4 separate regions of the Homo sapiens genome follow, and all the other regions are linked to region 1. Evidence: fine-mapped expression QTL. A gene starts in region 1. Each other region holds a variant in brackets. All regions are shown on one strand. Distances are between the middles of the regions.

Region 1 (2,705 bases):
GGCCTCCCAAAGTGCTGGGATTACAGGCATGAGCCACAGCGCCTGGCCCAAGTCCCCTCTAGTTAAGTGGCAAGCATTTGGATGATGACTTATGTGTCCGGCAAAACCAAAACAGGAAAAGCAAACCTATATGATCAGGCAGGAAAACTGGTTCTATGTTAAAATATGGACCTTACCTCTCAAGGACCAGGCAGGAATGCACACAGCACAAACCCCCATTGCACAGTGGGGATACAGCACCCTCCAGGAGGTGGTTTAATCCACCCCAGAGTGAACGGGGCCTGATAGGAACACTCAGGGCCAACTCTGGGCAAAGCAGCAGGCAGCATTCCTAAAGGGAGGGTTTGGAGGAGACAAAACCTGCCCTTCACAATGAACGTGCCTTAAGGGCTACATGCCCCGGGTCACAAGCTGTGCCAGGAAAGGGTTCTGGGGTAACTGTGGGGTCAGTGGCCCCATGGATGAGGCTCTGCTCACCAGGAAGAGGCCTAGGCGCCCAACAGCCCCTGAGCTTCCTCCCCTGGGGAGGATTTGCCCACAATCCCTGGGGGGCACCTAGGTGGAGAGGGTGCCCCGGCCTAGAAGCAGCCTAGGCGGCCGGTGTGTCCCTATCTGCACGCTCACAAGCACTCATGCCCCAGCCTGGGACACACAGGCCCGTATGCAGTAACAGCGTCTACCCAGCTGCACTCTGCACGCCAAGCACAGGCCGCCCCTGCTGCGGGGCCAAAGGCCTGAAAGCACCGCACCACGCAGCCTCGCCCAGAATAGCTCCCCTCCCGCCCCTCCTGCACAAAGCCCACCCGGACTTAGGGAGAAGGGGGCTCAATACGGGCCCGAAACGAGGCTACAGACCTTCTCAGGAGCAAAGGCAGCGACTGCAGGCAAATGGGGCTGTGGGCCGGGGTAATGATGCGGGACAGGAGAAGCCAAAGGGCAGCAAGGCTGGGGGCGGGGTAGGCGGCGCAGTAGGCTGAGGGAGGGGAAAAGGAAGAAGGGGAGAGGGAGGAGCGATGGCAGCAGGGGTGGAGGCCGAAGGAGACAGGGTCCCGGACAGACTTGTGAAAATGGGAGGATGGGCAGAGGAGACGTAGAAGAGGGGACAGGACAGGACAATGAGAGGCGGAGCGCGGGGAGTGCGATGCGGCCACCGGGGGCTCTGGGCGCTGGGCAGGGGCCAGGATGCCGGGGGTCTGAGCGCAGGCAGCGGGAAGGAGTGGGTTCTGAGGCTCAGCAAGGGGGAGGTGCCGCCCACCACGCCCCCCGCCCCAACGGGAGCGCGCGGAGCCAGCCTCTCACCCTCTCGCCCGCCGGGGCCGCGCAGGCGGGGGAAGCGCTGCTCCTGCGGCCGCCACAGGTGCCAGGTGCCGCGGCCCAAGATGGAGCCAGAGCCGACCTGGCCTGGGCGCGAGACGCCGCCCGCCGCCGTCGGCCCGGCCCGCGGAGCAAGCGCCGGGTACAGGGAGGGGCCAGCGGGGCAGCTGGCACCGGGGCGGCGGGAGGGGCGGCGGGCGGAGACCTCGCTCACCTGGGCCCGTGCCACTCTGGAGCCTGCCACCGCCCCGCCGCGGCCCGGGATCTGCGTCCGCGCGCCCCCACCCCTCCTTCCCGACCCCTCCTCAGGCCGGGTCCCCACTGTCCTCGGTCTTTTCGGCCCCGCCCGCACCACGACCGCCTGTTCTCCAGGCTGCCCAGCGAACCCCCAAGACTCCCACTTCCCCGACGCAACCCCACCGTCCCGGGTGTATAGGCGCAGCTCCCCACGATTCTCCGGCCCCAGACCCAGCCCCTCAAGTCCACCTCCTCGTAGCCCCACCCCCTCGCTCCAGTGCCCCTCGCTCCAGTTCCCCCTCCGCACCACGCCCCGCATTGAGGTCTCCGCGCCGGCGGCTACCCCTTTCCTCTCGCCTTCTCCATCCTAGCTCCGCCTCTCACAATTCTCTGGCTCCAGATCCCGCCCACGAGACCCCGTTTCCTATAGGGCCCTTTCGTCTGGGATACCAGGCCTGGTCTCCACTAGCCTCGGACTTTCCAGCCCCAGGTCCCAAATCCTGGACCCACCGTCCCATCCTCTGAGCTCCACTCTCATGGACCCCAAACCTCACTCCAGTCCTTTGAACTCCATGATCCTGGCCTGGCCTGGCCCCCGGAGCCCTCCATTGCCCCTCAAGAGCCCAGCCTGGTAGACTCCTTCCCTAGGGTTGCATCTCCAGCCCCGCCCCTGAAGACTGGTAATCTACCACCCCTTTCCCTGCCCACGTGCCCCTACCCAGCCCGACTTGAGGCCTTCAGTCTCCCAGCCGCGGACCCCAACAGCGGGCGAGGGCAGTGACCGTGCGGGGATGAGCCACCTCCACTGGAGCCCGCCTTCTTCTCCGCAATTCCCCGCAGCACCACAGCGCCTTCCCGGTCCCGTGACGCCGGGGGCCAGCCCAGGCCCTGGGATCGCCAGGTTCCACACTATGAGGCTGAGGACCTGGGCCTACGGTTCCCTCAATATCCCCCAGTTTCCACAACCGCTGGCCAGCTTCAGGGCGCAGGACAGGCAGCCCCGGCCTCCCGCCACTCGCAATAGATTCCTGCTGTCCACCCAGGGCCACGTGGTATGAGGCACCTGTACTATCTCTGGGCCCCAGTATCACATAATTGGGTCCCAATGTTGGCACTTCTCCGTTGTCCCCTGTGCCGGGACCCCCAACTTGTTG
Region 2 (2,630 bases), 450 kb before region 1:
ATGCTTTTTCTGGTATTTTGTGATGAACATGTATTTCTGTCCAGTAACCTAAATTTAGTATGTTTAGATACATTAATGCATGCAAAACCAATTTTAAAATGCTATAAATAAACCTAACTTGGCCACCATATTTTAAAACATGCTAGAGTTTAGTCATAATTTAGAACTTTTTGTTTATCTATGATCATGAGAGAGATGGGTCCATGCTTTCCAATTTCTGTGCTGTCCTTATTTGTTTTTGGTATTAGGTCATAAGAGACTCATAAAATGCACCTGGAGGTTTGCTCTTTCTCCTAGGAAAGACTTTGAACATGATAAATATAATCTGCTCTTTGAATATCTGGTATGATATCATCCTTGTGTTTTCTTTTGGGAAGACTTTAAAATGATATAATTTAATAGTTCCTGGATGTTACTAATTCTGTCTCCCCCAAAATGGGTATGTTGAAGCCCTAACTGGTGATGTGACTGTATTAGGACATGGGGCGTTAAGGAGGTAATTAAGGTTAAATGAGGTCATAAGAGTAAGGCCTTCATCAAATAGGACTGATGTCCTTACAAGAAGAGAAAGAGACGCCAGAGTTTTCTCTTCAAGCATGCACAGAGCAAAGGCCATGTGACAACTCCATGAGAAGGTCTCTGTTTGCAAGCCAAGAAGAGGAGTCTCATCAGAGACCAATCCTGGTGGCACCTTGATCATAGACTTTCAGCCTCCAGGATTGGTAGCAAATAAATTTTTATTGTTTAAGTCCCCCAGCCTGTGGTATTTTCTTATGACACCCAGAGCAGACTAACACTTATTTATTGATGATGATGATGATGATTATTATTATTATTATTATTTTTGAGATGGAGACTCACTTTGTCGCCCAGGCTGGAGTGCAGTGGCATGGTCTTGGCTTACTGCAACCTCTGCTTCCCAGGCTCAAGCGATTCTCCTGCCTCAGCCTCCAGAGTAGCTGAGATTACAGGGGCGTGCCACCAGGCCTGGTTAATTTTTGTATTTTTAGTAGAGACAGGGTTTCACCATGTTGCCCAGGCTGGTCTTGAACTCCTGATCTCAAGTGATCAGCCTGCCTTGGATCCCAAAGTGCTGGGATTACAGCCATGAGCCACCATGCCCGGCCCTAACACTTATTTAGTGTTTCTATTTCTGTCAATTCATATGACATATTTTTCTAGGAATTTGAACATTTATTAGCATGCCTTGTTATAAAGTTGTTCAGTTTATAGTTTATGTTTTTTTGTTTTATTTTATTAGGTGCATGCAAGTTTAGAATTGTTATGGCTTCCTGGAAAATGCAGCTGATTAGGAACTGATCCTCTTAACCCCTGGTCACACTTTCTCTGTGCTGAAGACTCCCACTTCCTTTTGGTTTCCCCAGCATCCCGGCCATATCTCCGTTATCTTTTCCCATCCTTTTATGTTAAACTTTTTTATGTCCTTATGTATTAGATATGTCTCTTTTTGAAAGTATATAGCCAGTTTTTATTGCTGCTTTTTTTTTTTTTTTTTTTTTTTGAGACATGGTCTCACTCTGTTGCCCAGGCTGGAGGGCAGTGGTGCGATCTTGGCTTACTGCAACCTCTGCTTCCTGGGTTCAAGACATTCTCGTGCCTCAGCCTCCCGAGTACCTGAGACTACAGGTGCACACCAACACTACCTGAGACTACAGGTG[C/T]GCACCACCACATCCGGTTAGTTTTTGTATTTTTTTGGTAGAGATGGGGATTCACCATGTTGGCCAGGCTGGTCTCGAACTCCTGACCTTGAATGATCCGCCTACCTTGGCTTCCCAAAGTCCTGGGATTACAGGCGTGATCCCACCGTGCCCAGCCAATTTTTTTTTTTTAAGAGTCAGGGTCTCACTCTGTTGCCCAAGCTAGAGTGCAGTGGTGCACTGATAGCTCACTATAACCTGGAACTTCTAGGCTCCTGCCTCCCACAGTCCAGTAACTAGGACTATAGGTGTGCACCACCACACCCAGCTAATTTTGTTTTTTGTGTTTTTTTTTTTTGAGAGAAAGGTTCTTGCTATGTTGCACAGACTGGCCTCAAGCAATCCTCCCGCATCTGCCTCCCAGAGCTATGGAATTACAGGCATGAGCCACGGTGCTGGATTGCATTTTTTTTTCTTTTTCTTTTTTTTTAGCAGACAAATTCTGACTTTAAATGGCAAGTTAAGTACATTGTGGGGAGCACGAAACTGCACCAATCAGATCTGTGACTGTGGGGAGTATGACTGGGAGAAGGGAGTGTTTTGGGAATCCATTCTCTACCACCACAATGGGCCACCACATTCACGGAAAGACCACACCCCTCACAGGCTTCTTCTAGCCAGAGGCCAGCAGGGATATGAAGACAGGCCCATGCCTAGGAAATCTCAGACTCCTCAGATGGCTCAAGGTCTCCCCATCTGCTTGGATAAACTTTCCTGGAACTGGTCTCCCCTCTGAAATTATTCTTTCATTTTCAGAAAACTCCCCATATTGGTGATGGTCATTATTTTCTGTATCTAGCCACTCACCTTAATCAGCGTGTTCCCAGCTTCTTTGCTCACCATTGTTTGTTGAACTCCACTCTTATGAGTTGTTTCCTTCTTTCTGAAATACATTCTTATCCTTTCATCAAG
Region 3 (2,705 bases), 400 kb after region 1:
GTCTCCCAAAGTGCTGGGATTACAGGCGTGAGCCACTGTGCCCAGCTAGGATCAAGTATCTTAATATATGTTTATTAACTTCTTCTTGGATTTGCATATTTATAAACTTTGTTCATTGTTTTTCTTATTAATTTGTAGGAACTCTTCACATGTTGGAAATCTTAACATGTTGTCTGTCTGACAAATGTGCTATAAATTGTAACCCTCAATTCTATACCTTAAGAAGGGAGACTTTCATGAACATTCTTAATTTCTAAAATGTTTAAAAAGGTCTTCTTTACAGGAAAAACATGCAAATATTCTCCTAAATTTTCTTCAGAATTTTTATTCACTTATTTTGCTTAGATCACGAATCTATCTGCAGTTTATTGCTAAATATTATAGGGGTATAGAAAACTATATTTTCTTTCATATGACTGGACAGTTATACCAGCACTATTCACTAAGTAAACCACATTTCCCAAATGAATTTATATATACTTTTATCACATATTAAGTTTCCAAAAATGTTTGATCCTTTTGTATTCTCTAAATTTTTTTTCACTAACTGACTTGTTTGTTCCTGTGGACATATTATATTATTCTGTTTTGATTCTACTTATTCTAAATATATCTGGAAAGGAAAATCCTCCCTCTAATTTTTTAAAAAATACATTTTTGTAGCTATTTGGGCAAGTTTTTGCTGCATCGGTGATTTTAAATTATTTTGTTCATTCCTGTGTAAACTTGTTTGAAATTTAGATAGAATGACATGCCAGTTATATTCATTCAGGTAGGATTGGCACTGTTGTGATTTTAAGTTCTTCCTTCCACATATAGAATGAGGGGAGTCAGGAGATCATCCATAGTGCATCTGAGCACAGAATAGCTGCTGCCCCATGTTCACCTTCCAGATCTGACATGAGAACCTCGCTTGTGCCCTGTTTTAGCTGGAAACATTCAGAGAACAGAATTCTGGGAAAAGTGGTCCAGCCTAGCCATGTCAACATATTATAAAGCTATCACAGTTCACCCTGTATCAGCCTGGCACCTATATACACCCTTTTAAATGTTACTTAATATCCAAATAAGGACAACCTTATGCTTGCATCTACAGTGATAAAACTAATCTGTGTACAACTGAAAACATTCTCTCCCCTTCTCCAAAAGTGTCTCTTTTTTGTCTTGAGTGATATTCTTTCTTTTCCAACTGATTCACATTCCCTTTAATATTTTTAAAAGAAAACAAAAATATGATATATATATATGTATAAAATATGCATATCAAAAAAGAAAGAAAAATTCACAATATTTTATCCCTGTTTATGCAGCTGGTCACATGGTTGTATCTGATTTTGATCACTGCCGTCTTACACCTGTCTGGTATTCTCTTTCAGCTCAGCAAACATCCCATTTGGTTGTGGTTCCTTGTCTGATAGGGTGACCCACACATTCATTCCTCAAGATCTAAGTCATTAGTAGTTCTGCCTAA[A/G]TTGGGTGGTTCTAGTTTTCTGTTTACTTAATCACCTTGACACACCCTAGAGGATCACCTGCATTGCAGACGTATTCCTCGTTACTCCATTGGAAAGCAGCAGCCCAGTTTCCCCTTAATACTTGGAATCCAGCACACTAGGCAGTGTAGTAATCCCCCTTTCCCTGATGATTCAGTAGCATATGAGGAACCCAAAATGTCCTGGTGGCGTTCTCAAATTCCACTTTAACGGATTTGTTGTTGTTTCTCCTGACGGAAGCATTCCTCACTCTGTTTAGGTCTGCATTGATTTCTTTCATCAGTGTTTGTTTGTTTTGCAGTCTTAACATATAGATTGTATATATGTTTTGTTAGATTTATATCTAATATTTCACATGTTTTGGTGCTATTGTAAATGAGACTTATGAAAAATATTTTAACTTCTATTGTTCATTGATAGTAGATAGAAATATGATTGATTTTTGTATATTACCAATGTGTCCTTCAACCTTCCTAAATGCTCATTAATTCTAGGGCCTTTTAAATATATTTTTTGGAATTTTTTTAAGTAGATACTCATGTTGGTGAATAAACACAGTTTTATTTTTCTACTTTTCCAATGTATATGCCTTTCATTTCTTTTCTTTCTTTCTTTCTTTCTTTCTTTCTTTCTTTCTTTCTTTCTTTCTTTCTTTCTTTCTTTTTTTTTGACTTACTAACTTATTGCATTCGCTAGGACTTTTGGTTCAATGTTGAATAAGAGGAAAGGGAGTGGACATCCTTTCCAGATTCTCCATTTTAGGGAGAAAGCATTCTGTTTTTCATCATAAAGTATAATGTTCGCTGTAGTATTTTTGTGAATGCCATTTATCAGATTAAGGGAGCCTTCCTATTATCCTAGTTTCCCGGAGTTATTATGAATGGACTCTTACTTTTGTTAAATGCTTTTTCTGCGTCTATTCAGATCATCATATAGTTTTTCTTTTTTTTGCCTGTTGATATACCGTGAGTTACTTTGGTTGATTTCCAAATATCTCACCTGCTTTGCATTCCTGGGATAAGCCCAACTTTGTGATGGTGTAATATTGTTTTTATGTTTTACGATTTGATTTGCTAGTATTTTCCTGAAGACTTTTTTTGTGTTTATGTTCATGACAGATATTCATCTGTAATTTTCTTTTTTTGTGATATCTTTTTCCGGTTTTAGTATCAGAGCAATGCTTCCCTTATAAAATTATTTGGGAAGTGTTTTCTC
Region 4 (2,705 bases), 240 kb after region 1:
AAACAAACAAACAAAAAGACTGAAGAGACATTACTAAACGTCTCTCTAGGAATTGCCTCCTGAATTCCCTTTGTGTATGTGTTCCCAGTCTCTGGAAGGTTTCCCTCAAGAGAGTGGTTATTCTGGGCCTCTTGGTGTATCTCATTTGTCTCCGTACCTGCTGCACCAGGCAATGTCTGGGTGTTTTGGAGTCGGGACTTAATAGAGTACATCAGAAGTTTCTCCCAGTTACAGGACCAGGCACTGCCCCTTCCTTTCCATACTGCTGTGGTCCATCGGCCACAGAACCGTTTCTGTGCTCAGAGGCCTCACCTCCCTCTCCTCACCATACTTAGATGGATGCCCCGGCTTGGTTGCAGAGCAGTCTGCCTCTGTGTGGTTCTAATAAGTCCTGAAAGAATCCAGCAAGGCTCTGGAAGCCTCAGGACAGTGGCTTTGCTGGAAGTCTCCCTTCTTAGGATTGCTTCTTGTTTAGAGCTTTTATTTTGTTGCAGTATTGACGAGAATTTAATTGAAATTTAATTTTTAATTTTCCTTTAATGTTTAGGTTGCCAAACTGTTCTACCTTTCTGGAATGGTGCATGGAGAATATCAAAACCAAGAAATCCACAATCTGGGCCATTTTATTACAGTTATGAAGTTTAGGCCTCTCATGGCAAACTTTTCACCCTTATATCCTGGCAGACAGTTAAAAGGTGATTGTAAACTTTTTCTTCCTGGGCCATATATTTCAAAGCTAAAAAGGCTAGAAAAAGAACAGTGATAGGATTTATTTTGTGCCTATTTGAATAGTGGGGGTAGAAGTGTAGTTGATGGAAAATGTCTACTTATATCATTGCTCAAAGATGCTGTGCCTTTGGGAGTAAATTAATTATGAGATGTTTAGGAAAATGGGAGGACTTGGAAGCATTTAAGACTACAGGATGTGGCCCCATCCTACGTTCAGCCTCAGTTTTCAGTGATGCTGCCTTCATGCCCGGGTGCTGGAGTCCTTCGTGCATGCCTTCAGTTTCCTTCCTTTGTGCTCTTCTTTGTGCTGTGATTTTCTCAGCCTGGAATACCCTTTTTCCACCTGCCAGAATCCAAGCCACAGTACAAATCCCAGAGCACAGGCTCACCCTCTTCGAGAAATGGATTTTCTGAATGTGTTCTTCACTCTTCCCTGACCCCAGGTGGA[C/T]GCCATCTCCCATCTGGTGTCTTATGGAATGAATGTCACTTTCAGCCTAGAGACACAGTTGTGTGCCTGCCCCTTTTCCTCTTCTGGATGGTGAACGGTGCTTCCTTATTTCTGCATTTTCTAGTTCCTAAGTGATGTGCTTAATGGACAAGAGTGTGATGAGTCATTGACACATGAAAGGAGGTATAGGAACTTTGGCATTCATTTCTGCTGTATGATTGAGTTTATTTTTCTAGGATGGAAGATTTGACAAACCCGGAGGATATCCAAACAAACATCAAATGTGACCTGCAGGTGTCACTTTATGGTTATTTAAGAGGAGCACACTTGAAAAATAAAAGCCAAATTCACATGCCAGGTATTCTCTTGCTGTAGAACATACGAGAATTGCACATAGGATTCTTGGGATGGCTTCATTTCTCAGGAAAAGTGAAAAATGACCAAACAAGGGAAGATGGCCTTGCTGGAGGTTTTAAAAGTAAGCCAGCTATGTGTAGGCCTGCAAAGGTGTTACCGAATCCCTCTTCTCTGACCTCTTGTAGCTAGAGGGCCACTGTTCCAGTGTGGCACAATGCCCTTCTTTAGGGTCATGGGTTAAGCCCTTGGACTGTGGATCGTTTTTAACCCCCCAGTCAACAGTAGATACTTACTGACTTCTTGTCAGTTGAAGCTGGCTTTTTGGGTCCTGTCTTCCAGGGGTAGAACATTTTGCCATGAGTGACATCAGTTTCCTCCCAGACCCTTGTGTTCTTCCTGAATAACAAAAGAAGTGCTGTTTAAATAAGAAGGAGCAGCTGGTTTATGCGCCTGTTTCTGGAGTTGAGGGTGTGCTGTATGACAAAGACGCTGTCTGTGTTGACCTTGGTGGCAGCCACGGTTTTCAGGCATCAGTGAGGCAGGAGTCTTTGCTCTGAACTCTCATTATTCTTTCCTAATCTATTTCTTAATCAAAAAAAGTAATGTACTCAGCTTTTATTTATTGAAGATTTTTCTCTTGTACTTATAATAAAGGCCCAAATGCATATTGTCAATATGTAGAATAAAAAGAATACCATTTTTTCATTGTACCAAGCAGAAGAGTCCTGTCCTCCATGCCTCCTTGATCCGTGGCCCCAGCGCGGGCACTGCTGCCAGTGTGGCACCTGCACGGCTTATTTCCGTTTCTACAAAATCAGTGTGCTTTCCAGCTCTCGTTTGTCTTTTTCTTTTTCTCAATCACAGTGGTCTCCTCATTATTTTAAAGTGGATTTCCAATATTTATTTCTTAGTTCTGTAGTTGAATTTTATTGGGTTAAAAGCAGGGTTACTTAAAAATGTTAGAAAAGCTAGCACTGTTGTAGCACTGGAACTGAGGTTTTTCTAGCTAGGTGTTTAGGTTATCAGGTTATATACTCACTGAGCTTTGGACAAGTTTAATGGAGATGGGGATCCATTTCAAGCTTTGTTATAAGGATTTTCTTCTCTGGTGTTTGTGGCATTAAGAAAGGTTCTCAGGAAATGTGTCTAAGATAATTTTGAGAAACTGAGT

Which allele goes with the higher level. Alleles are on the strand shown, and positions count from the first base shown. SD is a standard deviation of normalised expression in the study named. Not every link is listed here.
For the expression in unexposed skin of the gene that starts at base 1,460 in region 1, G is the high allele of the variant in region 3 and A is the other (small effect, 0.39 SD a copy in GTEx).

The links. PIP is the estimated chance that this variant, and not a neighbour inherited with it, causes the effect.
Region 2: its variant is fine-mapped to the expression of GPRIN2 in lung (TOPMed, PIP 0.96).
Region 3: its variant is fine-mapped to the expression of GPRIN2 in unexposed skin (GTEx, PIP 0.97).
Region 4: its variant is fine-mapped to the expression of GPRIN2 in thyroid (GTEx, PIP 0.95).

What each region holds. Positions count from the first base shown.
Region 1 is chr10:46,555,199-46,557,903 of GRCh38, forward strand. GPRIN2 (G protein regulated inducer of neurite outgrowth 2) reads right to left here and starts at 1,460. Exons shown (of 3, transcript NM_001385282.1): 1 at 1,300-1,460. RefSeq lists enhancers at 791-1,496, 2,202-2,705.
Region 2 is chr10:46,102,209-46,104,838 of GRCh38, forward strand. No RefSeq gene overlaps it. Among named protein-coding and RNA genes, the nearest start is that of MSMB, 57 kb to the left of the region's middle. The variant C/T (reference allele first, on the strand shown) is at 1,680.
Region 3 is chr10:46,951,246-46,953,950 of GRCh38, forward strand. All of the region lies in intron 5 of PTPN20 (protein tyrosine phosphatase non-receptor type 20), which reads left to right. Among named protein-coding and RNA genes, the nearest start is that of PTPN20, 41 kb to the left of the region's middle. The variant A/G (reference allele first, on the strand shown) is at 1,472.
Region 4 is chr10:46,795,259-46,797,963 of GRCh38, forward strand. It overlaps the pseudogene BMS1P1. Among named protein-coding and RNA genes, the nearest start is that of FAM245B, 56 kb to the left of the region's middle. The variant C/T (reference allele first, on the strand shown) is at 1,178.